Homo sapiens: one gene and its partners. The protein of the gene in region 4 interacts with the protein of the main gene of each other region in a pairwise test. Each region holds a gene or a part of one and is shown on either strand. Other genes may lie near its edges. The genes, in order: PRUNE2, CMC4, MVK, EWSR1, CFAP298, BNIP3L and CETP.

Region 1 (3,500 bases), on a different chromosome or scaffold from region 4:
GTTTGTGTAGTTTCCCCATCGTAAGTCATCATCTATTACAGCCTCTGGCAGCCACCTCCCTTTCCATCATCCCCTTCTGAGAAAACAAGGTTGGTGAACACTGTGTCAAAGTGCACATTAAATAATAACCTCAATGATGGTAGCTAGCATTCATGTGTTTTGCTATGCTCCCAGCATTTCTGTGAATGATTTACAAGTATCATCTCGCAAATAGCCTCAGAGATTGCACTTAGGGAATTTTCCTGTGAGAAAAGAACTAACTGATGATAGGTTTTCAATAATCAACTTTAGTTGCCTTTGCCCAATTCCTAGTTTTGGGGTAACTTTGGGTTGGCTGATGTGCCAGGGAAGTGACCGTGGACATAAGAACTGTTGCACTTACAACGCATCCTGTCCTGAATTGTGGAAGGATGTTCATACTTGCTTCCTTCTTGAATCCTTTCATCGCTTTCTTTTCTCCTATTTCCCCTCCAATTCTGCCTCCACCTTCCTTCTTTCCTTTCTTCCCCTTTCCTTCACTTCTGTGTGTATCGTGAGCATAATCAACAGTTTTCTGGGGCGCTGCTAAACCAGCAGACTGGAGAGCCAAAGTGGACTTGACACAACCGAGAGCTGTGTTCTAACCCTGGATCTTCTCCTGCCTAGACCCCCTGACATCGGTCAATCCATCAAAGTGGTATTTAAGGCCACCAATAAGAGAGTGGCAACAGTGAAGAAACTACAAAACCAAATAACCTTGGTGGCAAATAAGAGGCATTTAAACTCTTTTAAAAATGCATTCTTGTTCTTAACATTTCACCAAATGATGCCCATAACATTTCTAATTACTCTAAAAGCTAATCACACACATTCTCCTCCCAATCGTTTATCAGTTAATTTTCTTTCAAATGGGCATGCAGTGAGAACAATCTCACAATGTATTCAACCAAATCTCAGATGGCCTAACACCATGTTTTTCTCATAGCAGGATTTCAGTAACATTGGTTGATATTCTGTTGTCCAAAAGATTTTAACATAAAACAAGCAACACAGAAGAATGAACCCCTCTTGGGTCAGCGTGAACAATATATGTGCAATTTCACTAACTTACCACTCAGCCCTCCTATAAACTTGTCAAGCTGTTCACTTTTAATTTAACAAGAATGAAATGTTCCAGGAGATCTTGGGGGAAGAGGTGCTTATGGTATGAGGAAGAAGGTCCTAGAATTGAAGTCAGGTGATCCGGAAGCAAACTCCAGCTCTACTCTTTGTGGCTATGCAACCTTAGGCAAACCTCTTTTTTTTTTTTTTTTTTTTTTTTTTTTTTTTTTTTTGAGATGGAGTCTCGCTCTGTCATCCAGTCTGGAAGGAGTGCAGAGGCATGATCTCGGCTCACTGCAACCTCCACCTCCCTGGTTCAAGCAATTCCCCTGCCTCAGCCTCCCAAGTAGCTGGGATTATAGATGCACACCACCACGCCCAGTTAATTTTTTTGTATTTTTAGTAGAGATGGGGTTTCACCGTGTTGGCTGGACTGGTCTGGAACTCCTGACCTCAGGCAATCTGCCTGCCTGGGACTTCCAAAGTGCTAGGATTACAGGCATGAGCCACTGCACCTGGCCTGGGCAAACCTCTTAACCTCACTGAGCCTCAGTTTTGGCAACTGCAAAAGGAGATTAGTACCTACCTTACAAGACCATTGTGGGAGTTAAATCAAATTTTAAAAGTATCTCTTAGAGCTAAGACAGATATTCCACAAATTCTAACTGAATTGCAAGACAGCTAAGAATTGTTCCTGTTTCTGTGAAATGTAAATAGGGCTTCCTGGCTCTTGTTTGCTAGTGGCCTTTTCATGTTTTTATTACTGTGCCTGGAGATCACGTCCTCGTCTCAGGGCATACACACATGCAGCAGCCCTGTGAGGCCAGTGCTACTACTGTTCTCATTTACAGATGATGAAACTGAGACCCGGGGAGGCTAAGAAACTAAGATTGTGTGACTAGCAAGTAAAAGTGGCGGGGTTAGGATTTGAAATCAGGCACTGGCTCCACATGATTAGCCGCCCGGCTGTACTGCCTTTAGGGGGCAAGAAGTGGGAAGGAGGACAAAAGTCCTTCTAAGGGTCTCCTAAATCCACAACTCATACTCTAGGAAAATCTCCCAGGATCTGATTTAGGGCAGGCAGCCTCTGCCAGGGACTGCCTCACAGTTCCCCATTTATGGGCTCAGATATAAGGAAGTGTGGCTATTGCTGCTCTCAGGGAGGTCAGCAATCATCAAGGATGGGAACACAGACAATCTTTGGACTGTGTTGATGTTTCCTTTCAGCTACTTATTCTGAAGTCCCACACTATATTCTCCATTACTACAAAAAGCTAATTCTCAAATTTGAGTAGATGAACCCTGAATTAGGCCAGACTGGTCACCAATATATACTCAAGATCATATATATTATTATAAGATGTATTTATTTATTCTTGACAGTAACCAAAAGGATAACCTACTTATAATAAAAGTGCATATACATTAAAGTAAAAAAATTAAAACAACTATAATGAGATTAAAACTAAGTAGTAACAATTAAAAAAACAAAACAAAAAAAACCTTAGTTCGGAAATCCTAGGCTAAGAAAATGAAGCACCAACATAGCTTTAAGCTTCTGGGAAGCCAAAGCAAGAAATATCAAATGCATGGAGCCAAAGATATGCAATTTTCCTAGACATCATCAGTTCAAAAAGACTCTGGCATTACAGGCTAAAACAAATAACCTGGGAAGGTCTGGTCACATCCAGGAGAGTTAGATGAAGTGGAAGACCATGATCACGCTCCACCACAAACAGTCCCACTAGTTGGACGAGAGGTCTGACTCAGGATCATGCATGGGTTTACCCCACACATGAGGTCTGCAGTGCCAGGGCTGGACAGGAAGTCTGGAATGCCTAATCTTTTCTCTCAAGGACTCTGAACAGCTTCCCTGCCAATCTCTCTCATGATATTAGCACTGGTCAAGGGGCAGCAAGAGACTAGGCTGGGCTGACTTGGTACAGTGGTTGGCCTTGGGGGAGCCCAACTTCTAGTCTTTGAGCCACATGGAGGAGAACCTACGGTTCCAATGGTTCCACTGTTGGCTGATCTACCCAATGCAGTTTTGCAGAGGCTTTTAGTGCCCCATTCCTCTCCTCTGCCTCTCTCCATTCATGCTTTAGTTCAACCAATATTTATAGATCCCAAGCAGTCATGCATAAAAATTAGATTTTTATTTTGTCTTAACACTTTGTATTAAGTACTTACTGTGTATGAAGTACAATATGGTGCTCCTTGACTTTAGTGTCCTTCACCTTCTTCTAGCAAACAAATATGGCTTCCTGCCTCCTGACAATAGCCTTTCTTCAGATTCAGACCTCCAAAAATCTAAACCTGGCCCTCCGTTTATTTATTTTTATTGAGCCACTACAAAGTGTCATGCTTTGTGCAGGACTCTTGCCTTTAGGGTTTATTAATTCTAAAACCACTCTTTGAGC
Region 2 (3,500 bases), on a different chromosome or scaffold from region 4:
ACCAAATATTGCTGATTCCTAGGAAAACATTTACTACTTGTAAAGAATTTCCTGAGTTAAAGTAGTTATAACAGTTTATATACATTAAAAGTAAGGTTTTACTTTAAAAAAAAAAGTCTTGGGAATAATAGCTACCATGTATTGGAGTCCTTTCCAGGCACTATTGTATGTACTTTATATACTTTATCACATTTAATCCTCCTGTCAATGCTTTGAGGTAGGTATGATTCCCATTTTATATATGAGTAATAAAAAAAGCTCAAGGAGTTTAATCATTTATCAAGGGTTTCTTCTGCGAATGATAGAGCCAGGCTGCGCCGTCGGCTCCTCTAGCCTAACGTTGGTTTACAGTATTCAAAAAGAGTTGATTGAATTCAAGGTTTTTTTTCCATGTAAAGCTATTTATATCTTCCAAGCCTAATGAAATGGATATTATAAAAATACAGTTGATTCATCCTATGTTTGGGAAGAGTATTTTTAGTGTAATTATTTTCCAGCAATTGTAAGGGCATATACTGCTTGTCTCAGAAGAAAATTCCACGTAGAGGGGCTTTAAAGTCTTTATGGAAAAAAGAAAAATAAAAATCATTTTTCTTGTTTTAGTTTTCTGGATATGCCGCAGAAGGATCCGTGCCAGAAGCAAGCCTGTGAGATACAGAAATGTTTACAAGGTAGTATATTGTAAAATGCTTTAAAAATATTTTTCCACTGTGAACTAACTATAAGAGACCAATTATTCTTTTATCTGTATTAACTCTTTTTTAAGAATGTAACGTATATGTAATTATCCTGAAGATTCTCTTCATTGTATCATCAAAGATGCAGAAAATAAAAAGTAATGTGATCAAAGCTAGGGGTTTTCACTCCAGGTGATTAGCATCACCTGGAGATCTTTAAACACTTACCTAGAACAATTCAGACTTCCTAGGGCTAGGGCTAGGAAAAAAAGGGTTTTTTGTTGTTGTTGTTTGTTTTTACTAAAAGGCTAGTTTTAAATTGGTTGGTTATACTTCACTGCAGCTGACAATTCACTTTTTAAAAGCAATCTGGAAGAGGTGCGGTTGAAATAACAATTGGAATTCAGGCTGCCAAAGTCATCAACTAACTCTTAAAGGCAGAAGTGAATCTCGACTAAAGCATATTTGAGGTGATTTGTCCATTTGTCCAGCTGCTAAGTTTGACCAAATGTTAGAGGATTTTAGTTTTCTAATCAGTGAATGACTGTTGCCAGAAGAGCAAATAGAAAAAGCTATAAGGCTATCTGAATTTGAAAAAATTTTAATAAGTTTTCCTCACTAGTAAAGTAATAGATGGAGATGGAAGGTCATGAAAATATAGAAAGGTATGAAGGAAAAATGTTCAGAGTTCCCCCAAAGATTCACCACCAAAGAAATCCTTTGTTTGTGTATCTCCTTGGACTTTTAGCTTTCATTCTTGGACTTTTCATTTTTTGATGTTAGCAATATTTTATAAAATCTTTTAGATTAAAATCTGGATGTATAATAATGCCATTTTAGTCAAACTTCTTCCCTCCAACTTTAAGGAAAAGGAAAAAGTTTTTTGCATTTAATTCCTTCTCCCAAATAAAACCTTACCTTGTTTGAAATAACCCATAGCTAAGGGAAAAAAATAAGTTAAAAAGAGCTGGTGACACCCCCTTGGCAGTGTGGGAGGATTAAGAACTGGAAAGACTAAAAGATGACAAGCACCGTTATAAGGACTTTATACGTATTAAGCCTTTCATCCATGAGGTAGATGCTACTATGACCCCCATTTCATAAAGGGGAAAACAGACACACAAGTTATGTAATTTGACTAGGGTCACATAGCTAGTAAGAGGTATGGTGGGAATTTGAACACCCCCCGCCAACCCCGCCCTTGGTCTAGCTCCAAATCTGGACTGTTACCCACCTTGCTATACTGCCTTTCTAATCAGAATTGTCTTTCCTATCCTGAGCTAACTACCATGTACTCCATTTTAGTACTGGGGGACTCATTAACTGCAGCTGACCTAGAGTCTTTAGGTCAGGTCCTCCTTAACTTAGTGTTTATGTATAGTAGGGATCTGCAAATGTTTTATGAAAAAGGCCAAACAAGTAATATTTTAGGCTTTGGAGGCCAAAGGCCTTTGTTGTATATATTGTGTATGTGTTGTGTGTTTACAACCCTTTAAAAATTAAAATCCATTTTTAGCTCCCAGCTGTAAAAACCGGCTGAATTTGACCCTAAGGCTGCAGTTTGCCAATTCCTGATGCACAGCCTTAGTAGGGGAGGTCCAACAATCAGCTTAAACTGTATGCAAAATAATGTGTGGTGTATGTGCATTTTCCTAATTCATCAAATTAGTGACCAGTAATAAAAATGATGTTAAAAACCAATGTCCTAGAAAAAGGTGCATACATGCTATTAACCTTAAAGGAAATTATATATTAAAATAGCTTTCAACCACTTTGTAAATCATACTTTCCCTAACGAACCTGTCGACAGGTCTCTAAATTAGAAAGAATTCAGTGGACTTTGGTATATCTTCTTTCTTCCAGTTCCATAGGTACTGAAAGTGAAAAGGGGTGGGAAGCACTGATCTAAACCTCCCTGTACCTTAGTCCTATGAGATCATGACTAGAGTCTGCCTGTATGTTTTTCAGCCAACAGCTACATGGAATCAAAGTGTCAGGCTGTCATCCAAGAACTGCGTAAGTGTTGTGCTCAGTATCCCAAGGGAAGATCTGTCGTCTGTTCAGGATTTGAAAAAGAAGAGGAAGAAAACCTAACACGGAAGTCTGCATCAAAGTAAAGTTCTTCTGAAGTGCTGCTCCATGTTTCCACCAAATGAATTTTTTTTATCCTCCTGACTCTTCAGGCCAGGTAGCAGCAAATAGCAAATGAAAAAGTCAGCTACAAAAGTTAATGAATATGCCATCTATGCAGAACAGGCAGAAATATAAACACATTAAAAGACAAATATGTAGAATGTAATATACTGAGCTGCTAAAATAAACCTGTTTAAGAGAAAAATTTGGGTTTTGTACTAAATGTATTTTAAGACTATTAGATATAGGGTATTAATGAATTCTCTTGAAGTTCAAGCCACTAGTGCCATTCATCAAATTTAAGTCATATGAGGTATGTTAGGTGAAAGGACTCACTTCCAGCATCACAATTTTGACGCCCTTTTTTTTTTTTTTTTTTTTTTTTTTGAGATGGAGTCTCACTCTGTCATCCAGGCTACAGTGCAATGGTGCGATCTCGGCCCACCGCAACCTCTGCCTGCCGGGTTCAAGCAATTCTGCCTCAGCCTCCCAAGTAGCTGGGATTATAGGCATGCACCACCACGCCTGGCTAATTTTTGTGTTCTTAGTAGACGGGGTTTCACCATGTTGGTCAGGCTGGTCTTGAACTCCTGACCTCGTGATCTGCCCGCCTCGGCCTCCCAAAGTGCTGGGATTACAGGCGTGAGCCAATTTTGATACCTTTTATAGATTACATGCTAAACTAATTCA
Region 3 (3,500 bases), on a different chromosome or scaffold from region 4:
CTCCCGCTTCCATCCTGCCTCTGCCCTGTGTGCCTCCATCATGGTGACTCTCACATTGTCCTGTGGCGGCTTTTGTGTGTGTCTGGCCCCACCCCCACAAGCAGACTGAGAGTCCTTGGAAACTGTACCCAAGCTTCATCTCTCCATTCCTACGCCCCAGTGCAGCATCATCGGGAACACAGGAAGTAATGGATTCTTGTTTACTAAGCAAATACAGGAATGAATGAATGAGCAGCTGAGAGTCTACGGGCACAGCCATGCATGACTTTCCCTTTCTGATATCTCTGCAATTTAAGAGCTGAAGGGGAGAAGGAGAGAGCAGGTCTTCCCCACCACCCCTGCTTCCTTGCAGCTAGTGCACTGTGAGGGCCACATTGGGGGATGAAGAGCCAGGGACACCTGCCTCCTATGGTACTTCCCAAAGGTGCAGAGCTCTGCCCCCTGCACACATCAATGCAGCCATGGCTGAATGTGCTGCTCCACCCCCAGGTTACCTCTTTAAGGATGAAATCTTCCCTTGATGGTATCGGAGGGCTCCTCCTAAAGAGAAAAACCAGTGGGTCAGAGCTGTGGGAAAAGCTAACATATCTGTGCTACTTGGGAGAGAGGTTGAACTTTGGGTTGGGTTCATTTTGCCCCATTCAGGAAAGAGGCTAAGTAATGAGTCAGCCCAGCTTCAGTTACAAAAGGTGCAGGAGGGCAAAAGGTCCCCGAAGCCCCACCAGGAAGCTCTTGCCAGGCCTTGGATTCCTGGGTCCCCCTCCCTCCAGACTGTCCAGCTTCCCCCGACAAGCCACATGGTGAAGGTGGGGCCCAGGACACAGCATCTGGGCCCTGTAAGCAAGAGTTCTTGCCAGAGGGGAGGCCACCTGGATGGTGTGCAAACTCCACGGCAACGGCTCTGCATCCTGAACCTACAACTCTCTTGGGGAGCTCGTGGAAGCTGCAGCTTCCCAGGCCCCAGTTCCACCCCCGGAGATTCTGATTCAGGGGGTGTGAGACAGGGCCCCAAGATTTCTCCCCATTCCCCCCAAAATAGGAAAATGCTATTTTTTCCAGAATCCATTGATTCGATTCCTCCCAAACCAGCACAGACTCTTGGGCACCTACCATTGTAATAAGAATTTTTAAAATAACAACAATAAAATAAACCTGAGGCCACACCTACCCCAGGTGCTGACAGCATTGTCCACTCCGGAGGGGTTCCCGTGAATCATTCTCTCCCCTTGGAAGGCCCACTTGTTAATTAGCTCCAAATCCTCCTTGGTCCACCTGAAGACACAGATGTTCATCTTTACTGTGGCAGTGAGGAGTGGGGCTGGGGAGGGGTCACCTGGGGCTGTGCTGGGCAGGCCAAGGGGCATAGGAGCTTGGGCCCTTGAGCTCAGAAAGAACAAGTCCACTCTGAACCTCTCCAGCTACGGAGCGTGCCAAGTGTGCGCCCTTCCCTCTGAAGCCCACCTGGCGCAGTCAAAACAGCCTGGGCTTTGGACTCCCGTGGTCCTACTTTGCCTCTTTTTTTTTCTTTTTTTTTGAGACGGAGTCTCACTCTGTCACCCAGGCTGGAGTGCAGTGGTGCAATCTCAGCTCACTTTCTCCCGGGTTCAAGCAATTCTCCTGCCTCAGCCTCCCGAGCAGCTGGGACAACAGGTGCACACCAGCACGCCCAGCTAATTTTTGTATTTTTTAGTAGAGACGGGGTTTCACCATATTGGACAGGCTGGTCTCGAACGCCCGCTTTGGCCTCCCAAAGTGCTGGGATTACAGGCATGAGCCACCGCACCTGGCCCCTGCATTGCCTCTTACTAGCTGAGTGACTCTGGGCCTGTTATCTAACCTCTCTGAGCCTCATTATCCTTCCCTGGAGAATTGGAACCCCCACCCTCCTCAGAGGCTAGCTGCATGTGTGTCTAATGATGGCAAGGTGTCCACAAGCAGCAGGTGGCAACTGCCACTATAACAGACCTCTGCATAAGCGTCCACACCTGAACCAAGCCTGCCTTTAAGAAGAACGGGCAGAGGTGTGACTCTTTCCCAGGGCCCTGCAAGTAGATCCAAAGCACGATCATTATGAATTCAAATCCCAGGAGCCCCAGAGACCCCTGGAGGGGCCAGGCTCGTCCCAACCATGTCTGGATCTCTCCCAAGCACGTGGCCTCACTGCCTTCCATGGACCAGGTGTGGGCTCACAAACAGTTTAAATGAACAGACCCAAAACACATGAGTATGGAACAAGACAAAATGATCAACCCCACTTCCCCACTCTTTTCTCTCAGCTTTTGTTTCCTTTCTGCAGATTCCCTTCCTCATGAAACAGCAGAAGCTAAAGGTGGTTTTCTGACCTCTGAGAATGATGTGGCTCAGTGGCAGAGTTATGGAGTAAGCAGTCAGCCTAGTTTTGTTTTTTTGAGATGGAGTTTCGCTCTTGTCCCCCAGGCTGGAGTGCTGTGGCACGATCTCAGCTCACTGCAACCTCTGCCTCCTGGGTTCAAGCGATTCTCCTACCTCAGCCTCCCGAGTAGCTGGGATTACAGGCGCCTGCCACCACGCCTGGCTAATGTTTGTATTTTTAGTAGAGATGGGTTTTTGCTGTGTTGGCCAGGCTGATCTCGAACTCCTGACCTGAAGCGATCTGCCTACCTCAGCCTCCCAAAGTGCTGGGATTACAGGCGTGAGCCACCGTGCCCAGCCAGTGAGCCCTTTTTGGAGCCCATCCTATCACTGACTCACTGGGCATCTGTGAGCAACTGCTTCACCTTAAACCCTGTTTTCTCATCCATAAAACAGGGATAATAGTGTCTATCTCACTGAGGATATTGAGATGGAAAAAATACACAAGTGCTTTGTGTAATGCCCAGGAGATAGGATGTGCTCCCCTCAAAATAGGCCGTCTGGGGTCACAGCGCCTGGGGGCCTGGTTCAATCACTTACTTGCTGTGAGCCCTGAGCAAGTCAATTACCTGCTCTGAGTCTCTTTCTTCATCTGCCAAATAAGGATTTTTACGGACTTGGCAACTCACATGGTAGCTGTGAGACTATGATTAATAATGAGTTAACATCAGTTAACATACTATTGATTAGCATGTGCCAAACATTGTGCTAAATGCTTTCTCAAATGGACCATTGAGAAATGGTTCATAATCCTCCCAATTGTGCCCTACAGGGAAGGTATAATAATTATCCTGTTTCTTACAGAAACGGAAACTGAGGCTTGGATGGGTCAAACAGCATCCTGGAGATCACAGTGCTACTCACTGCTGGGTCAGGACCACATCTGCTGACTTGGAGCCCAAGCTCTTAGCTACTAACTTAATGGTGCCAACAAGATACACTCACTTATTCATTCAGCATTTATTGAGCAACTGCTATGTGCCTGTGACTAAGCTCCTAGTAGGGAGCAAAACAGACAAGGTCCCTGACTTCTTGGAGCTTAGAGTCTAATGGAGAAAGTGAAGGTCAGAAAGCGATCAGTATTCAAATACAAACAAATCCATGACACT
Region 4 (3,500 bases):
GATGACTAGTCTTTCAGCTGAATATCAGATGTGGTTGACTTGAATTCAGGAGCTACCTTGTATAAGAATATCTTCACGTGTACTTTTTTGCATTATATATGCACACGATCAGTTTAGTCTGTAATTGTTTACATATATCCAGTAACACAAGAGCAATCTATTTATAGGACTTAAAAAAGATTACAACAGGATATATATATTGATACCTCTGACTTAAAAAAAGGAACGTGATACCTAAAAACTGAAAAGAAAATATGGCAAAACTGTGGTATGAATAATGTGGAAATGCATTTTTTTCTTTTTTGTGAGACAGAGTCTCACTCTGTTGTCCAGGCTGGTCTCAAACTCCTGGGCTCAAGCAATCCTTGGGATCCTCCTGCCTTGGCCTCCCAAAGTGCTGGGATTACACATGTGAGCCACTGTATCCAGCTTGGAAATCTATTTTAACATCTTTATTTCCAAAATTTTGATGGTAAATACTACTTTCTTAACCAGGATAAACTCCACATTCCTCAATAAACTACATGTTATATACATATTAAAAAGCAGTCTTTTTAATATGCTCAAGCCTGTACTCCCAGCTACTCAAGAGGCTTGAGGCTTGAACCCAGGAGGCGGAGGTTGCAGTGAGCTGAAATTGTGCCACTGCACTCCAGTCTGGGCAACAGAGCAAGACTCCATCTCAAAACAAAAAAGCAAACAAGGAGTCTTGCACAGGGTAGAATGTGACAGTAGACACTAAAAGCATTTTACTTTTGAGGTGTGTGTGATATCTGTGCACACACACACCTACAAGCAGGGAGAAATCACCTTATATAAGATTTACCAAAATCAACTGTATTTCCTTTTTTTTTTTGAGATGGAGTCTTGCTCTGTCGCCAGGCTGGAGTGCAGTGGCGCCATCTCAGCTCACTGCAACCTCTGCATCCTGGGATCAACTGATTCTCCTGCCTCAGACTCCCAAGTAGCTCAACTACAGGCGCGTGTCACCACACCCGGCTAATTTCTGTATTTTTAGTAGATACGGGGTTTCACCACGTTGGCCAGGATGGTCTCGATCTCTTGACTTCGTGATCCACCCACCTCGGCCTCCCATAGTGCCGGGATTACAGGCATGAGCCACCACGCCCGCCCAAAATCAACTGTATTTTTTTTTTTTTTTTGAGGCGGAGTCTCACTCAGTCACCCAGGCTGGAATGCAGTGGCGCCATCTCAGCTCACTGCAAGCTCCGCCTCCCAGGTTCATGCCATTCTCCCGCCTCAGCCTCCGAGTAGCTGGGACTACAGGTGCCCGCCACCAAGCCTGGCTAATTTTTTGTATTTATAGTAGAGACGGGGTTTCATCGTGTTAGCCAGGATGGTCTCGATCTCCTGACCTCGTGATCCACCCGCCTCGGCCTCCCAAAGTGCTAGGATTACAGGCGTGAGCTACCGCGCCCGGCCAAATCAACTGTATTTCTATACACCAGTAATAACCAGAAAAGTGTCATTTAACGAAGACCCTTAACCACAGCAACTTGAAAATAAACGAAACCTAGAAGTAAAACTAGTAAAATTTGCAAGACCTTTAAGGAAATCGATAGTCTTTACTGAAGATCTAAATAGGCTGGGTGTGGTGGCTCACACCTGTAATCACAGCACTTTGGGAGGCCTAGGTGGGTGGATCACGTGAGGTCAGAAGTTCAAGACCAGCCTGACCAACCTGGTGAAATCCCATCTCTACTTACAAAAATTAGCCAGGGGTGCTGGCAGGCGCCTGTAATTCCAGCTACTCGGGAGGCTGAGGCAAGGAGACCCGGGAGGCAGAGGTTACAGTAAACCAAGACTGCGCCACTGCAATCCAGCCGGGTGAAGGAGTGAGACTCTGTCTCAAAGTAAAATAAAATAACAAATAGAGACAGGCCAGGCACAGTGGCTCATGTCTGCAATCACAAAACTTTGGGAGTTGAGGCGGCAGATCACCTGAGGTCAGGAGTTCAAGACCAGCCTGACCAACATGGTTTCACCAAACCCCATCTCTACTAAAAATACAAAAATTAGCTGGGTGTGGTGGCGGGCACCTGTAATCCTAGCTACTCAGGAGGCTGAGGCAGGACAATCGCTTGAACCCAGGAGCCAGAGGCTGCAGTGAGCCGAGATCGTGCCACTGCACTCCAGCCTGGTGACACAGCAAGACTGTCTCAGTAAATAAATAAGCAAATAAATATACAAATAAATGGAGAAATAAAATCTTCATGGGGAAAAAAAGATCACTCAGTATCATAAAAATGTAAATTCTCCTGAAATTACTTCATAGATTTAGTAAATATTCAATTGGGGTTTTAAGGTTTTGAGGTTTATGGGGTTCATAAACTAACTCTAATACAGAAGAGCAAGAACTGAAAAACAGTCAAAATCCCTGAAGAAAAAATCTGCGTTACTAGCTATGAAGAATTAGCATAAAGACACAATAATTTGAGGTTGGGTGTAGTGGCTCATGCTTGTAATCCCAGCAATTTGGGAGGCTGAGGTAGGTGGCCACTTGAGGTGGCCAGGAGTTAGAGACCAGCCCGGCCAACAGGCAAAAATCCATCTCCACTAAAAATATAAAAATTAGTTGGGTGTGGTGGCATGTGCCTATAAGTCCAGCTACCTCAAGAGGCTGTGGTGGGAGAATCACTTGAACCTGGGAGGCTGAGATTGAGCAACACTCTGTCCCTAGGGGTGGAGGAGGGAAGGCCGGGCGTAGGGGATCACACCTGTAATCCCAGCACTTTGGGAGGCGCCAAGGTGGGCAGATCACCTGAGGTCAGGAGTTTGAGACCCGCCTGCCCAACACGGTGAAACCCCATCTTTACTAAAAAGACACAATTAGCTGGTGGCGCACACCTGTAATCCCAGCTACTTGGGAGGCTGAGGCAGGAGATTCGCTTGAACAGAGGTTGCAGTGAGCCAAGACTTGCGCCATTGCACTCCAGCCTGGGCACCAAGAAGGAAACTCCGTCTCAAAAAAAAAAAAAAAAAAAGGCTAATCTTTTTTAAAAAGGAACAAACCATAAGATACCTAGAAAGAAGTCAGGCAAAGGCAACCTTAGAAAACAACTCTCAACATCAATTCAATCTCTTTAAAATGCTCTGTGGTTTAAAGTTCTGCCAGATGACCTGGTTATGCTTTTACTGACCTTAACAACCCCACACTGCTTAAAGAAGTCTGCCAGATCATCTAGAGTCACACTGTCATTTAATCCTTGTACATAAATTGCACTGTTGTCAGAGTCTTCATCTGGATCTACAGGTGGGCCTTTCAGAGACAACAAGACAGGAGAATTATTATCATGTATCTATAGGGGTTTCTTAACTACCTGATCACTACTGCCCAAGGATATTCATCATAAATCTAAGAAAACTACCAAGCATACTAAGAAGAATGCTATCAAACTTTTGGTTTACTTCACTTAAGGCAATTATGAGTAGATGCTCACATAGGATTTCCCAAACTGTCCTTGACAGCAAGAATATCA
Region 5 (3,500 bases), on a different chromosome or scaffold from region 4:
TGAATTGACTGGCAGGACCCCCAGTGGGCATCAGAATGCAAAAGGCTACAGGAGAGCCTTAAAGAAAGCCACAGCTGTGGAAGTGAAAGGAAGAGGTGGACTTAAGAGGCATCATGGGAGCAGACGGTACAGAACCCCACTTCAAACCTAGAGGTGACAGAAGGGAGAAGTGTTGAAGATGACACTGAGGATTTGCCCTATAAAACCAAGACACTGTGGTTCTGTTACTGGAAACAGAGAAGCTCATAGGAGGTGCTGATTCTCAGGGACAGAACAGAGAGGGAGAGGAGTGAGGAAGCAAAGAGCTCATTTCTAGAAAACTGGACTTCAAAGTGCTGACTGGGTGTTCAGATAGAACCATCTCACAACCAGCTGGAAATTCAGGTTGGAAGTGAAGCAAGATGTCAGGGGGAAAGGATGGAAGCTTCAGAGTTATCTGCAGAGGGTGGAATTTGCATTTGGCAGAGTAGATAAGATACTGAGAGAGGAAGAAGACCAAGGATAAAAAGTACTTTCAGAAGTACACAGGCAAAGGGGAGAAGTGAGGCGACCGAGAGAGGAGTTCCACAGCAAAGTGTGGGGAGAAGGGTGCAGAACAACAGCCAGACCACTGTTTTCTTGCCATGGCCTGAGACGTGCTCACATGCCTAGATGCCATCACCACGCAAACGACGGGCTCAACCAGGGCCTCTCCTGTAGAGCTTCATAAAGCCTTTCCTATATTAACAGGCACAGAGCTTCAGGGCAGCCTTTGCTGAGGCTCTTCAAAGATTAGTCAAAAGCTTGGTAAGTTTGAGAAATATTGGTTTAAAAATAACAGTTCTGCTGAGCAAACCAGGAGAAGCAGAAGAAAAAGTGGTGATCAGTCAAGAGACTTGCAGTTGAGAGCGGTAGCAACTAATATCACCAACACACAAATACAAGCAACAGATACAGATACCACTTCTTTCAATAGCCTTAAATTCTCTTCCTCCAGATACACATTATCTGTATATCAATGGTATAAATTTACGCTCCTCCCTCTATAAACTAGCCTTTGTATAAAATGCTGAAGACAATTACAAAAAACCATTTATATCAAATACATATTAAGTCAATCAAGTGTCTGGAGAGCTACTCGATGGCCACAATATTCAAATCTCCCCTACTTAACTTTGTTAAGTTCTTCAAAAAGGTAAAAGAAATGAAATCAACATTTGTATTATACATATTTGTATTATACGTGAACCTATATTTACATAAGCCAACAAAAATTTGTGTCTGCCTGGAGGAACGGAGAGGCCTCTGGGCAACCGTCAGGATTATGAAAGGAAAAGCTACAGCCTACCCCAAATACGCTTGTTTCCTTTGCCTCCGGAAGGCTGAAAGAGAAGGCTGGCTGAGAGGCAACTCTGGAAGCCAGAGTTGGAGTTTTATCTCAAAAGACAAGTTTTAGGCCGGGCGCGGTGGCTCATGCCTGTAATCCCAGCACTTTGGGAGGCCAAGACAGGCGGATCACCTGAGGTCAGGAGTTCGAGACCAGCCTGACCAACATGGAGAAACCCCGTCTCTACTAAAAATACAAAATTAGCTCGGCATGGTGGTGCATGCCTGTAATCCCAGCTACTCGGGAGGCTGAGGCAGGAGAATTGCTTGAACCCAGGAGGTGGAGGTTGTGGTGAGCCGAGATCGCACCATTGCACTCCAGCCTGGGCAACAAAAGCAAAATTCCATCTCCAAAAAAAAAAAAAAAAACCCAACAAGTTTTAGTGCATCATTTAAAAAAGCCAACCTTAGATATTATTGCTTTGGCTTCTTCTATAGTCTTCTTTAACACTTGCTTCATCTTCTCATTTGGAGCTATAAAAATAAAAAGGAGAGAGGGAGAAAGAGCTGTCAAATACAAAGCCTCTTCTGAAATACCTCAATCCCCTCTGTCTGAGTCAGGGGGTAAATGAACTGAGAGAGAGTGCGAGTGTGGAATTTAGGGAAGAGAAGCAAGAAACCTGGCTGCCGGAAGTTAGGTGAAGACCTCTTCCCAACAGCAGAGACCTGGAGTGTGCTTTACGCAAAGTGGCAAAGGCTACAAAAAACAGAAATGCATGTCGTTGGGTAAACAGGGCCGGTGAACTTTTTCTGGAAAGGGCCAGAGAGTAAAATTTGAGGCTTTGCAGGCCACACAGTCTTGTTGGGTGGGATAACTCAGCTCTGCCACGTAGCACAAGAGCAGACAATACTTAAATAACTGGGGTAGCTGCGTCTCCTTACAATTTTATTTACAATAGGCAGCTGGCTAAATTTGACCTGTAGCCCATAATTTGGTGACCCCTAGATCAGGAAAAAATAATAACTTGAAAGCTTAGAAGCCAAAAAAAAAAAAAAAAAAAAGAAGAAGATGGAATGCCCAAACCTAGGGAAAATGGGGCAAGTTGAAACCATACATTCCTAGTAAATAACAGTATTAATTAGACATTGAAAATATTAGAAACACAAGATTGTATTATAATAGAAGTGGTTAGGCTGGGCGTAGTGGCTCACGCCTGTAATCCCAGCACTTCGGAAGGCCAAGATGGGTGGATCACCTGAGGTCAGGAGTTCGAGACCAGCCTGGGCAACATGCTGAAACCCTGTCTCTATGAAAAATACAAAAATTAGCCGGGCATGGTAGCAGGCATGTGTAATCCCAGCTACTCTGGAGGCTGAGGCAGGAGAATCACTGGAATCCGGGAGGCAGAGGTTGCAGTGAGCCGAGATTGTGCCACTGCACTCCAACCTGGGTGACAGAGTAAGACTCTGTCTCAAAAAAAAAAAAAAAAAAAAAAAAGGTGGTTAATTTAAGAACATATTACATATTGGTTTAATGATGAATAATGAACTGTTAACTGGTTCTCATATTTTTTTTCCTCATCTTACCACATCTTCTTACGTAAGAAAGCTGTGGAAGACAACCATTTTTCAGGTTAACATTGAAAGGAAAAAATACTAGGAATTCTTACTATCCCTGATATTTAAAAAAATGTATTTTTGAGCTGCTAAAGGCCTTGCAGGAATACTGTTCTTTTACTCCTAACAGTGTTTTAGGGCTGTTCAATTACAGTGTTTTAAATGGCGCTTTTAATGCAGGTTAAAAAGAATAAGCTATCAAAAAGGATTATCATCAATTCCACATGATCAGCCAAACACTGAAAGGAGAGGAATTTCCTCAGTGTTTTGCCGTGTACTGAAGTGCTCTGCCCCAGAGAGAAGCATGTCCTTGATCAGGGAAGTCCATGTGCTGACATGCTTTCCCTTTCCTCTTTCACACAGTCCATCTCGAAAGATCCCCCAACATTTGCGAACAGTAACAAAACACAACTCTGAATACATTGCGGTGAGGACCTGCCAACAATTATTAGGTGGAAACACATGAAATTGCCAATACTCAACCATTTTTGAGCTACAGAAGGGAAAGGGTCATTTCATCTGGTTCGTCGAATACATATAAAAGCAAGCTGCAACTTATTAAAGAGCAAGACAAAAGC
Region 6 (3,500 bases), on a different chromosome or scaffold from region 4:
ACCAATTCCTTAGGACTCTGCTGCCAAACGACACAGTTGTACAACATCTCCATGGCCTCATTCTATACACACATAAAATGGACACAGGCTAGAGAACTCAAAATGGATTAACAAATACAACTAGCAAAGCTAAGAGAGATCTAACATTGAAGATAATTTATCTCGAGTGCCTCTGGAGTGTATAAGAAATACGCCAAAAGCATCCCTAAATTTAGAGCTCTGCAACATATTTCAACTGGAGAGAAAGGGGGTGGGGGAGAGAATATGTATATAAAAACAGTTTTTTTTTCTGACTCTCACTGTTTCTAGGATTTTCAAACTTATTTTTAAACCAATGGGACCAGTTCTTCTTGTATAGAAGCCTAATGTGTACAATAGTAACAAACCAAAACCCAGAGCTGCTCTGACAGAAGCAGAGGTAAGGAACCAGGAGTTCCAGATAGGTCTCTGTGGAAGTCAGTCTTCCCTAAAATACAATTAATATTCACTTGAAGTAGGCAATCGAAGAGAAAAAAGGGTGTAACAAACAATATCAGGTTTTCTGGTCCTTACTTTTGTTTTTCTTTTGAGACAGTCTTGCATTGTCACCCAGGCTGTAGTACAGTGGCACAATCACAGCTCACTGCGGCCTTGATTCCTGGGCCCAAGCAATCCTCCCACCTCAGCCTCCCAAGAAGCTGGGACTACAGGGCACATGCCACCATGCCCGACTTATTTATTTATTTATTTATTTATTTATTTATTTAGTAGAGACAGGGTCTCCCTACATTGCCCAGGTTGGTCTCAAACTCCTGGGCTTCAGCAATCCTCCCACCTCAGCCTCCCAAAGTGCTGGGCTTACAGGTATGAGCCACTGCTCCCAACCTGGTTTTTACTTTTTTGAAGGACTTTCAAATCAATGTCTGGATCCTATTTTCTTCATTAAAAACACATAAGCAATCATAATCCAATATATACTTTTGGAACCTGAAAGAGACATACCTAGAAAAGCTTAGTAAAAGTGATCTCTGCTGTGGCCTCCACACCCTGAATCATAACTGAAAGCATTTCTACTTAAGGCGGACAATTTGTACTTGGGATACACTGGTATAGTGTGGTCAGGGGCTGAGACTGAAGCCAGGCTCCCACTCTCAGTTATAGCTGTTACCCTCGCACAGGGTACTTAACCTCTTTGTGCCTCAGTTTTCTCATCTATAAAATAGAGATAATAACTGTATCTACCTCGAAGACTTTGTTAGGAGGATTAAATGAATATAGCACGCAGAACAATAAGAAAGGTCCCTAAGAAAGTTTTAGCTACTACAATTATATTCTATATCATAGAAAAACCATTCCTTACTGGAAAAATGTGTTCCTAGAAAACGTAAACATCAGTACATAAAATTAAAAATTAACATCTCTCCCAACCTCCCGTTCCTACTCCCAAAGGAGCCACTTTTGACAGTTTCACATGGAGACTTGCAGAGTTTTTGTCAATGAAATATAGGTCTGTTTTTGCTTTTGTTTTTATAAAGAAATGGAACTGTACCATACACACATACTGACATATTCTGTAAGTCGTTTTTCAGATGTCTTCCCTATCAATATATACTGACATTCATTCTTTTGAACAACTGCATTGCATCTCATCTTTTATAAAGATATACCATACTTTAACCATTATCTAAATGGCAATGGTTAACTACTACTGAGATGGTTGTTTCTAATACTTTGTTATTACAATTAGGGCTTCAGTGAACATTCTGGAGAATAATTTGACAATAGGTATTAACAGCCTTAAAAGTGTAGATTTCCTTTAATTAATTAAGGGTAATTCTCTTTCAAAAATATCATCTATGGAAATACATAGTGGTACAGAGAAAGTTATGTACACAGGCATTAAGAGGCTACATATTAATCTTTTGAGTAACACATAAAAAAGCAAATGTGTCTTCCTCAATAGATGAACAACACGTCTGTTTCCCATCACCCGATTTGTTCCTGATTTACAGCCTCAGAATTTCTTAGTGTTCTAACTCTACCAATCCTCACAAAGTCCCTTTTTACTTGGAAAGGAAACAAGGCTAGATAAGAGGTTTGTGCTGTCCAAGCAACACAAAGTAGAAAACAACCACAGAGTGAATTCTCCTCCTAATGATCAAGCTTGAAAACTAAAAGCTGGAAGCTTTCTCCATTATCTAAAAGACTTTACAAACTAAGAGCTGTTCCTTATGCCAATTTGTACATAACATACAATGACATGAGATATTTTCTGGTTTGGGTTTTTGGGAATGACTAAGAGATTCAGAGAAACTTCTGTGAATGCTTCTCCGTTCTCTAACATAATAGACTGTGAAGGGTGGTCCAATAATTGTGATTATACTCATTGCCGTATGTTGTATAATCTTTACAGTTTTATAATCACTAGTTCAATCCTCTTGCAAGAAGAAGAAGAGAGGAGCTTTGGGACAAGGGGAGGAGAGAATGAAGAGTATTTCTCCTCATCTTTCCCCCTAACTTTTCAAGGCCCACATGTAACTCTTTTGAAATTTCATTATATTTACATTCTTTCCTCAAAGCTTTTCATTCATTATTGAAAGGAATCCAGACCAGGCCAACCTGATGCTGAAATCCAGACCAGGCCAACAAGAGTTACTGGCATTCTTCTTAAATAAAAAAATAAATAAATAAATTTTTGAAAAGTTGGTCTTTTTGCAGCAGTATGTATTTACATACAAGTTACGTAGGTATTCAAAACATTATTATGAGGCAGTGACAATCCATGAAGGCCTTAAGAGCACTCTTCATAACAAGAAAGCAAGGACATTGTGCTTGAAGATGTTTCTATTTAAAAAAAAGAGTTTGTGACCAGCTTGGGCAACAAAGCAAAACTCCATCTCTACAAAAAATAAGTTAGCCGGTGACCAGCCTGGGTGACAAAGTGAAACTCGAACTCTACAAGAAATAAAATAATTAGCTGGATGTGGGGGTGCACACCTGCAGTCCTAGCTACTTGGGAGGCTGAGGCAGGAGGATCACTTGAGCCCAGGAGGTCTAAGCTGCCATGAGCTATGACTGTACCACTGCACTCCAGTTTGGGTGACAAAGCAAGACCCTGTCTCAACAAAACAAAAAACAAAAAAGAACAAGAAAATTTGAAAAGAAAAAAAAGGCTATACTTCTCAACAACAAGAATTATACTACGATTTACACTACTACTTTGATTTTCCTTATTCGGCCCTATTGAATCTTATTCAAACATTCTTAAGGAAGTTGATAGTTTTCTTAACAATAAAACAAACTGGACAACATCCTTTTGACTTGGAAGGAGTTTGGGTATTTGCCCTGTAATTTTTAATGAAAGTGAACAGTCTCTCCACAGCGGTAAAGTTAAAAAAAAATCACAAAAATACTTCACTATTCAAATACTTCAGTAATTTGCTATTGAAACCCTGCTTTGACCCCTGAACCAAAGATAAAATCCCAAACGCAAGATAATCTGTACATTTCTTCTCCTGTTT
Region 7 (3,500 bases), on a different chromosome or scaffold from region 4:
ATTGCCCTGAGTCACCGCTCCCCTGCATCCACACAGCTACCCAACCCTCCAGCCTCAGTGTTCCCCTCTGTAAAGTGGGACCTGGGTGTGCGGGGAGGGGTGTGGCACTTTTTCATTCTCTCTTTTCCCAAGTCTGTCTGTCTGGGTAGGTAGAGCCCTTCTAGAAGGTTGGTTCAGAGCAGAGTCCAAGACTTGGGCTGAAACCCAGCTCTGCTCTGTACTGCATAGGAGAGTACAGTACATGGATGAGTGCCCAGCCATGTGAGCAATCTAATTATCTTTTTTCCTAATCTACTTCCAGGAGAATCTTGGAGTCCTCTTGGACTTAATCACCCATTTGTCCTGAGTTCTATAGACTTGCCCAACGCCACACAGCTTGTGAGGCTGCAGCCCAAAGGGGCAGAGATTTGCCAAAGTATGCTCATAACTAATCATCAAGTGTCAGAGCCAGATAGAGCCCATGGGACCTAGACAGGAAGAGTGACAGTCCCAAGGCCACATAGTGCAGCAGGTGGCTTTCTGGCTCCCACTGCTGTCTTCTGAGGCATGCAGACAGAAACGCACTCACCAGCCCTTGTCTGGACAAAATCGGCCATGATGTTAGAGATGACGTTGATCTCTTTGCAGATCTGGGGCAGACAGAGCAGGTGCTTTCCAGGCAGGAAAGGAGGCCAGAGGCAGTGCCTCCTTCCAGCTGCGTGGTGGTGGCAGTGCTGGGGACCGGCACAGGGGACTGGCCACATGGAGAAGGTGGGAGTGGCACCTTCTCAGGGAAAGGCAGGGAGGAAAGGGATCCAGCCTCCTGGGCATGGCCCTGGACCACAGGGAGTCAGCCAGCCTCACTCACCTGTCCCTTCAGGACCAGCTTCAGGGTGAAGGAGATGAAATTTGTGAACAGCTGCTTGATCCACCCAGGCCTGAAGGCAGCAAGCACCACAATGAGCCCCTGACCAGTCCTGTGCATCCATGGAGCGCCTAGTGTGTACCAGGCACCGTTCATGGCTCTGTTGGCCCTGACTCTTGTAGCTCAGGAAGTAAGAATTATCACTCCCATTTTGCAGCTGAGAACACGGAGCCTCAGACCCAAGAATTAACTGTGGCACCATCCCAGAATTCCTCGGGAGGGCCCAGCTCCTGTGACGCTCACACCTGTCACACACACGAGAACGTGTCTAGAGTCCAAATTCATACATGTATCCGTCTGCTCCAGAGTCAGAAAATGGCCTGAATAGAGGGCTCCTCTCCAGACCCCACCCACCAGTTCCCTTCTGCCTTCCAGGTTTGGCATTGGTAACATGACTAGGGACTCTCCAAACCTTGTTATCTTCCTCTGTGCAATGGGGTTACCCACAGCTCCTTGACAGAGGGTGTTGGCCAAGACAAAAAGCCCCACCCTGGGAAGCAGGAGAGTAAAGTATCTAGGAACTCAGCTTCTGGGGTCAGAGAATGCTGGGTTCAAATCCTACTCCCATCCCTTAGTGGCGAGTTGTGTGTCCTCAGCAAGTTACTTAGCTTGGCTAGAGTTTTATCTCTGAGTTAGTGTGGTGCTTGGAATGCAGGATGCACTCCGTAGATATGAGCTTTTCCTTTCTAACCTCTCTGTGACTCAGTTTACCCATATGTAAAAAGGGGATGATAACAGAATCTATATCCTAGGGTTGGTTTTAAGGACAAAATCAATTAATTCATGAAAAGGGCTTGGAATAGTGCTTTGCACACAGCAAGTTCTTAATAGCTGTTAGTTACTAGCTGTTGGTTATTGTTGTTTCCAGCCTTTGAGGGTGTATTGATGGGAGGGGGTAGGAAGTGACCCCACTGAAGGTATTGCTGCCCTCAGGTTTGGCCACCCACAAGCATGCCCTGTGTGGGGTTGAGCCTGGAAGGAGCCGTGGACACACTAACAGGATGGGCACGAGCAGGAATGGGGGCCACAGGGTGGTGTACTTACTCTCGCTCCCCTTGGAGATGCAGGAGCAGCTTATGGAAAGACAGGTAGCAGTCAGGGGCATCGGTCCGCACTCTACCAGAGTCACAGGCTGCAGGGAGACCCGACATGACCTCAGGGCAGCCTCCGCTATCAGATGGTATCCACATGCTGCCCAGGCCAGTCAAGAGCTTGGCCAGCTCTGGGGTCCCCACCCCTGCAAACTTCCCAGGCTGGGCCTCCTTTGGTGGCCCCAGAACCCTCTGCCTGCACAACCTCCCCCTCTGCTGAGGCCAAGCCCTGGAGTCCAGCTCCCACTTCCCCAGAGGACGCTTGACACATACTCAGCTGTGTGTTGATCTGGAGGTCAATGGCAGAGTCGATCTCGAAGTCAATGGACTGATCAATACCCAGCCTGGAAAGAGCCAAGGACCCAGGACCCTCATTCAGCCCTCCAGCCCAGAGAGGGCCAGGGCATGGGGCATCAGCTGACAGGAATGCTTACCACCAGGCAGTGGTGTAGCCATACTTCAGGGTCCCCTTGAAGACCACAGACACGTTCTGAATGGAGACATCAATGGACTTGGCTTCCACCAGCTCCACCTGGCTGCTGGCGATGGACAAGTGGCTGATCTGGATGCTGGGAAGGAATGGAAGTGAGGAAGGATGTTGGGGGTCATCCAGGGAGCCCAAGGAGTGAGCCTCCAATTTTGTCTAGGCGAGGGTGGAAGATAGAATCATGGCCCCCAAAATGTCCTCCTAATCCACAGAACCTGCAAATATGTTACCCAACATGTCAAACCCTGGGTACCACACTCAACTCGTGTTACCCATATGAAAGTATGGTTAAGTTAAGGACCTTGGGGTAGGTGGGGAGATGATCCTAGGTTATCTGGGTGGTCCCAATACAATCACAGGGTACCGAAAAGTGGAAGAGGAGGCAGAAGAGGAGAGGAAGGGGAGAGGTGACCAGGGAAGAACGCCCGGAGAGAGTCAACCCTGGTGTGCTGAAGATGGAGGGAACCGTGCTCACAGGGAGATTTATATCTAGAAATGCCTATCTTTAAAAAAGAGAAAGATCTCAACTCAATAATCAAACTTTCCACCTTATGGAACTTGAAAAATAAGGGCAAACTAAGCCCAAAGCTAGCAGAAGGAAGGAAGTAATCAGGATCTTAGTGCCTATGAATGAAATAATAGAACAAAAACAACAATCGGTGAAAACAATAGCTGGTTTTTCCAAAAGATCAACAAAATCAACAAACCTTTAGCTAGACTGGCAAAAAAAAAAAAAAAGAAGAAGACTCAAATTACTAAAAACAGAAATAAAAGCAAGGCCATTATTACCAGTCTTACAGAAATAAAAGGAATTATGAGAGAATACTACGAACAATTGTATGTCAACAAATGAGGTTAACTAGATGAAATGAAATGGACAAATTCTTAGAAATGTAAATGGTATATGAAGAAGGGTGAAAATTGATTCGGAAGAGTATCAATACACCACCAGAGGTAAAGTTAGATCAAAAATAGGTTGGTGGGCCAGCGTGGTGGCTCACACCTGTAATCCTAGCAC

The links.
Region 1: the proteins of EWSR1 (region 4) and PRUNE2 interact in a two-hybrid assay, tested with the Homo sapiens proteins (one large-scale study listed by BioGRID and IntAct).
Region 2: the proteins of EWSR1 (region 4) and CMC4 interact in a two-hybrid assay, tested with the Homo sapiens proteins (one large-scale study listed by IntAct).
Region 3: the proteins of EWSR1 (region 4) and MVK interact in a two-hybrid assay, tested with the Homo sapiens proteins (2 studies listed by BioGRID and IntAct).
Region 5: the proteins of EWSR1 (region 4) and CFAP298 interact in a two-hybrid assay, tested with the Homo sapiens proteins (one large-scale study listed by BioGRID and IntAct).
Region 6: the proteins of EWSR1 (region 4) and BNIP3L interact in a two-hybrid assay, tested with the Homo sapiens proteins (one large-scale study listed by BioGRID and IntAct).
Region 7: the proteins of EWSR1 (region 4) and CETP interact in a two-hybrid assay, tested with the Homo sapiens proteins (one large-scale study listed by BioGRID and IntAct).

What each region holds. Positions count from the first base shown.
Region 1 is NC_000009.12:76,896,115-76,899,614, forward strand, and holds part of PRUNE2 (protein prune homolog 2), read right to left. Parts: intron 1-3,500. UniProt on the Homo sapiens protein: May play an important role in regulating differentiation, survival and aggressiveness of the tumor cells.
Region 2 is NC_000023.11:155,061,137-155,064,636, reverse strand, and holds the end of CMC4 (cx9C motif-containing protein 4), read left to right. Parts: exon of another isoform or gene 1-603; 5' UTR 604-613; coding exon 614-671; intron 672-2,645; coding exon 2,646-2,794; 3' UTR 2,795-3,015; downstream 3,016-3,500.
Region 3 is NC_000012.12:109,583,794-109,587,293, reverse strand, and holds part of MVK (mevalonate kinase), read right to left. Parts: intron 1,273-3,500; coding exon 1,169-1,272; intron 541-1,168; coding exon 495-540; intron 204-494; coding exon of another isoform or gene 129-203; intron 1-128. UniProt on the Homo sapiens protein: Catalyzes the phosphorylation of mevalonate to mevalonate 5-phosphate, a key step in isoprenoid and cholesterol biosynthesis.
Region 4 is NC_000022.11:29,292,268-29,295,767, reverse strand, and holds part of EWSR1 (RNA-binding protein EWS), read right to left. Parts: intron 3,281-3,500; coding exon 3,162-3,280; intron 1-3,161. UniProt on the Homo sapiens protein: Binds to ssRNA containing the consensus sequence 5'-AGGUAA-3'. Might normally function as a transcriptional repressor. EWS-fusion-proteins (EFPS) may play a role in the tumorigenic process.
Region 5 is NC_000021.9:32,605,878-32,609,377, forward strand, and holds part of CFAP298 (cilia- and flagella-associated protein 298), read right to left. Parts: intron 1,840-3,500; coding exon 1,772-1,839; intron 1-1,771. Other genes in the region: CFAP298-TCP10L (uncharacterized protein LOC110091775), read right to left, coding at 1,772-1,839. UniProt on the Homo sapiens protein: Plays a role in motile cilium function, possibly by acting on outer dynein arm assembly. Seems to be important for initiation rather than maintenance of cilium motility.
Region 6 is NC_000008.11:26,386,054-26,389,553, reverse strand, and holds part of BNIP3L (BCL2/adenovirus E1B 19 kDa protein-interacting protein 3-like), read right to left. Parts: intron 1-3,500.
Region 7 is NC_000016.10:56,968,450-56,971,949, reverse strand, and holds part of CETP (cholesteryl ester transfer protein isoform 1 precursor), read right to left. Parts: intron 2,565-3,500; coding exon 2,430-2,564; intron 2,340-2,429; coding exon 2,269-2,339; intron 2,037-2,268; coding exon 1,949-2,036; intron 918-1,948; coding exon 848-917; intron 630-847; coding exon 569-629; intron 1-568. UniProt on the Homo sapiens protein: Involved in the transfer of neutral lipids, including cholesteryl ester and triglyceride, among lipoprotein particles.